2 separate regions of the Homo sapiens genome follow, and region 1 is linked to region 2. A link means that fine-mapping ties the variant in region 2 to the expression of a gene that starts in the linked region. Tissue or cell type: whole blood. Region 2 holds a variant in brackets; the other region holds the start of a gene. All regions are shown on one strand. Distances are between the middles of the regions.

Region 1 (2,753 bases), 22 kb before region 2:
GGAGAGACGGGGTCTAGTTTTGTTGTCCAGGCTAGTCTCAAACTCCTGGACTCAAATGATCCTCCCGCCTCAGCCTCACAAAGTGCTGGGATTACAGGCGTGAGCCAACCTCCTGGGCCACTCACACCTATTTCTTAGAAGGGTAAGTTGAGGCTGACTGCAGCTGACTCCTTCCCCAACCACTCTCACACCCTACTGGCTGACTCACCCTGCTTGGCAGACTCCTGGGCCCCTCCTCTCGGACTCTGCGACAGGCCAAGGGGGTCCAGACCCTCCCTGACCCCAACAGTCCCAAGACGCCACAGCTGGTGGGCGGAGAAACAAGGGGATTCTCCCCTGGGGCCAGTGGCCATGGCTTGGCCTCGAGTGAACCCTGCTAGGGCCCCAAACCCAGGGCCTACCTAGCTCCTGTTCTTCCCGCGCGGGGGAAGGGGGGTGCTCTGCTCCCCTCCCTCCCCTTTCTGGCAGGGCTCACGGTTCTTCCCCGGGGCGCATCCACAAACCTGAGCTCCTTGGCGCTCACCACCATAACGCTGGCGTACAAAGCTGCTTCCATTCACTGAGCACTCAGTAGGCGCCGGGCACAGCACTAGGTGCCTATCCGGCGTAGACATCGGGCCTGATCATACAGCTGAGCTTCAGAGACCTCAAGTCCCTGCCCAGGCCCACACAGCGCTCAGCGGTGCTAGGATGCCCACTTGACAGACAGCGAAACTGAGACCCAGAGGGGTCAAGTCAGGGGCAGAAGCAGACTCTGGAGGCCTCCGGGTTCTGGACCTTCTCTGCCCCATTGTCCCTGATTAGCCCGCAAGCAAGCCACGGCCTAAGCCGAAGGAAGAACTCGCCTGCAGGAGCCCCCGTTCGTTCCCAGGGTTTGGACGCCCCGGGCTGGGCCCCGCTAAGCCCCTCGGGCCGCCCAGGCGCCGGACCCCCGTCCCCGGAGCCCCCGCGCGCGCTCACTTTGGGCTTGTCGAAGGCGGGCGTCTGGGCCATGGTGCCCTCGTGCGCCCCGGCGCTGCTCCCTCCGCCGCCGCTCGGTGGGTCTCTGCCGGCTCGGTGGCCGCTCGGCTTTCCCTGGGGCCAGCGGTGGCCGCGGCCGGCCACGCTCTTCTTAACGGGCCGGGCCCCGCCTCCCGCCCCGCCCGCCGCCGTTCCCGGGGCCCGCCCTCTCGCCGGAGCCCCCGCCCCGCCCGCCGGCCTGGATCGCGCATTTCCTGGAATTCTGGACCCGGCGTCCTCGCCCGCCGACCCGAAAACTACGGCCCCGCGGCGCCCGACCGGACCCACCTGTGGGCGCGCGCTCCAGCCGCCTCGCTGGGCGCTGCCTTCCCCCCGGCTCCTCCAGCAACTTTCAAGCGTCCCCCTGCAGTCTGGGCGCTGCTGTGCGCCAGGCCCAAGCTAGAAGCGGGGACCCCGGGAGCATCGCAAGCCTCGAGCGGCGTGCCTTCCACCGGATAGACGGACGCTCGTCGCAGAAACACACACCATAATTGTATAGTTAAGGAACTTTCGAGGGGGGCCAGCCGTGGCCTGCAGAACCTGCAGGAGTTCATCAGGGGTGGGTGGGGGTGGAGAGGACATTCTACGTGAGAGACTCCAGGGAGCTGGGAGTGAAAGGAGGCGAGGAAGGCTGGAGCTCGGAGGGAGGGAGAACACAGACAGTCCCCTCCTGGGCATTCACCTTTAAGAAACCCGCCCAGGCGCAGCCAGAGACCTGTGCAGAATGTTCACACCAGCGCTATTCCGAATAACAGGAACATTGGAAACACCCTCAAATGCCCCTCCACGGGCGAGTGGGCAAATAAACCGGAATATTCACACCATGAAACGTTAGACAGCAGTGAAACGGAATGAACTTCAGCCAGACAACAACAGAAACAATGTCTCAGAAACAATGTTGAGTGAAAAAAACTAAGTTGCGGAAAACTGCATACAATGGTGCAACTTTTAGAATGTGTAAAAGCAAAACCAAAAGTATGTATGTTTAGACACATGCATCGGTGGAAAAAATGTAAAGCAAGGGAAAGATGAGCATAGATACGAGAAGAGTGGTTATCTCAGGTGAAAGGGAAGGAGCCGGGAGGAGGTAAGGACGGAGGGAAATAACACGCGGGTACAGGTTATTTATTTATTTATTTATTTATTTATTTATTTATTTATTTATTTACTGAGACGGAGTTTCGCTCTTTCGCGGAGGCTGCAGTGAAGTGGCGCGATCTGGGCTCACTGCAACCTCTGCCCCTCTGGCCCGCCTCCTCCCCACCGCTCCCCCGCACCCCCAGCGTTTCAAGCGATTTTCCTGTCTCAGCCTCCCGAGTAGCTGGGATTATAGGCGCCCACAACCACGCCTGGCTAATTTTTGTTTTTTGTTTTTTTGTTTTTGTTTTTGTTTTTTTGAGATGGACTCTTGCTCTGTCGCCCAGGCTGGAGTGCAGTGGCGAAATCTCGGCTCACTGCAACCTCCACCTCCTGGATTTTAAGCAGTTCTCGGCCTCAGCGTCCCGAGTAGCTGGGATTACAGGCGCGTGGCACCGTGCCCTGCTAAGTTTTGGATTTGTAGTAGAGACGGGGTTTCACCATGTTGGCCAGGCTGGTCTCGAACACCTGACCTCACATGATCCACCCACCTCGGCTTCCCAAGGCGTGATTACAGGCATGAGCCACCACGCCTGGCCACACACAGGTTATTGATAATGTTCCAGTACTGGGGTGGATGGTAGCTTCATTTCATTTCATCATAAATAAATTAACAA
Region 2 (2,753 bases):
ATAACTGTTGTGGGTATTGATGGCCAAGCTTCAAAACCCCTTAAAACTCCCCCACTCTGGTGCCAACTTGGACAACGTTCTTTTATGCACTCTTTTTCAGTTATCCCCACCTGCCCAGCTTCCTTATTAGGCTGAGACATTTTAACCAAATTATCTGCTTCCCTGATTATTCCTGTACTACAGCCACATCTCATTGCCCCCTTCTTCCCAACCCAAAGCCTCCTTTGGGTCTTCCTCTCATATCCCCCGACCTTAACCCACAAATATGGGACACCTCCACTCCCTCCCTGGCAACCAATCACATGCCCATTACTATCCCATTAAAACCTAATCACGCTTACCCCACTCAATGCCAGTATCACATCCCACAACAGGCTTTAAGGGGATTAAATCCTGTTATCACTTGCCTGCTACAGCATGGGCTTCTAAAACCTATAAACTCTCCTTACAATTCTCCCATTTTACCTGTTCAAAAACCGGACAAGTCTTACAGGTTAGTTCAGGATCTGTGCCTTATCAACCAAATTGTTTTGCCTATCCACCCTGTGGTGCCCAACCCGTACGCTCTTTTGTCCTCAATATCTTCCTCCACAACTCACTATTCCATTCTTGATCTTTAAAATGCTTTTTTTCACTATTCTCCTACACCCCTTGTCCCAGCCTCTCTTTGCTTTTACCTGGACCGATCCTGACACCCATCAGTCCCAGCAGCTTACCTGGGCTGTACTGCCGCAAGGCTTCAGGGCCAGCCCTCATTACTTCAGCCAAGCTCTTTCTTATGATTTACTTTCTTTCCACCCCTCTGCTTCTTGCCTTATTCAATATATTGATGACCTTCTACTTTGTAGCCCCTCCTTTGAATCTTCTCAACAAGACACCCTCCTGCTCCTTCAACATTTATTCTCCAAGGGATATTGGGTATCCCTGTCCAAAGCTCAAATTTCTTCTCCATCCATTACCTACCTCAGCATAATTCTTCATAACAACACATGCGCTCTCCCTGCGGATCGTGTCCGACTGATCTCTCAAACCCCAGGCCCTTCTACAAAACAACAACTCCTTTACTTCCTGGGCGTGGTTGGATACTTTTGTCTTTGGATACCTGGTTTTGCCATCCTAACAAAACCATTGTATAAACTCACAAAAGGAAACCTAGCTGACTCCATAGATTCTCAATCCTTTCCCCACTCCTCTTTCTGTTCCTTGAAGACAGTTTTAGAGACTGCTCCCACACTAGCTCTCCCTGGCTCATCTCAACCCTTTTCATTACACGCAGCCGAAGTGTAGGGCTGTGCAGTTGGAATTCGTACACAAGGACTGGGACCGCACCCTATAGGCTTTTTGTCCAAACAACTTGACCTTACTGTTTTAGGCTGGCTATCATGTCTCCATGCGGTGG[C/T]CGCTGCTGCCCTAATACTTTTGGAGGCCCTCAAAATCACAAACTATGCTCAACTCACTCTCTACAGTTCTTATAACTTCCAAAATCTATTTTCTTCCTCACACCTGACACATATACTGTCTGCTCCCCGGCTCCTTCAGCTGTACTCACTCTTTGTTGAGTCTCCCACAGTTACCATTGTTCCTGGCCCGGACTTCAATCCAGCCTCCCACATTATTCCTGATACCACACGTGACCCCCATGACTGTATCTCTATGATACACCTGACATTCACTCTATTTCCCCACATTTCCTTCTTTCCTGTTCCTCACCCTGATCACACCTGGTATATTGATGGCAGTTCCACTAGGCCTAATCGCCACACACCAGCAAAGGCAGGCTATGCTATAGTATCTTCCACATCTATCATTGAGGCTACCACTCTGCCCACCTCCACTACCTCTCAGCAAGCTGAACTCATTGCCTTAACTCGAGCCCTCACTCTTGCAAAGGAACTACGCACTACGCATCAATATTTATACTGACTCTAAATATGCCTTCCATATCCTGCACCACCATGGTGTTAAATGGGCTGAAAGAGGTTTCCTCACTACGCAAGGGTCCTCCATCATTATTGCCTCTTTAATAAAAACTCTTCTCAAGGCCGCTTTACTTCCAAAGGAAACTGGAGTCATACACTGCAAGGGCCACCAAAAGGCATCAGATCCCATCGTTCAGGGCAACGCTTATGCTGATAAGGTAGCTAAAGAAAGAGCTAGCATTCCAACTTCTGTCCCTCACAGACAGTTTTTCTCCTCCTCATGGGTCACTCCCACCTACTCTCCTGCTGAAACTTCCACCTATCAATATCTTCCCACACAAGGCAAATGGTTCTTGGACCAAGAAAAATATCTCCTTCCAGCCTCACAGGCCCATTCTATTCTGTCATCATTTCATAACCTCTTCCATGTAGGTTACAAGCCGCTAGCCCGACTCTTAGAACCTCTCATTTCCTTTCCATCATGGAAATCTATCCTCAAGGAAATCACTTCTCAGTGTTCCATCTGCTATTCTACTACTCCTCAGGGATTGTTCAGGCCCCCTCCCTTCCCTACACATCCAGCTTGGGGATTTGCCCCTGCCCAGGACTGGCAAATTGACTTTACTCACATGTCCCGAGTCAGGAAACTAAAATACCTCTTGGTCTAGGTAGACACTTTCACTGGATGGGTAGAGGCCTTTCCCACAGGGTCTGAGAAGGCCATCATGGTCATTTCTTCCCTTCTGTCAGACATAATTCCTCAGTTTGGCCTTCCCACCTCTATACAGTCTGATAACGGATTGGCCTTTATTAGTCAAATCACCCAAGCCGTTT

What was found. PIP is the estimated chance that this variant, and not a neighbour inherited with it, causes the effect.
Region 1: it holds the start of ADA, and the variant in region 2 is fine-mapped to the expression of ADA in whole blood (INTERVAL, PIP above 0.99).

Annotation. Positions count from the first base shown.
Region 1 is chr20:44,650,615-44,653,367 of GRCh38, forward strand. It overlaps ADA (adenosine deaminase), which reads right to left and starts at 1,085. Exons shown (of 12, transcript NM_000022.4): 1 at 961-1,085. The coding sequence starts at 993. RefSeq lists enhancers at 534-643, 874-1,857 and a silencer at 894-1,283.
Region 2 is chr20:44,672,991-44,675,743 of GRCh38, forward strand. No RefSeq gene overlaps it. Among named protein-coding and RNA genes, the nearest start is that of LINC01260, 2.6 kb to the left of the region's middle. The variant C/T (reference allele first, on the strand shown) is at 1,400.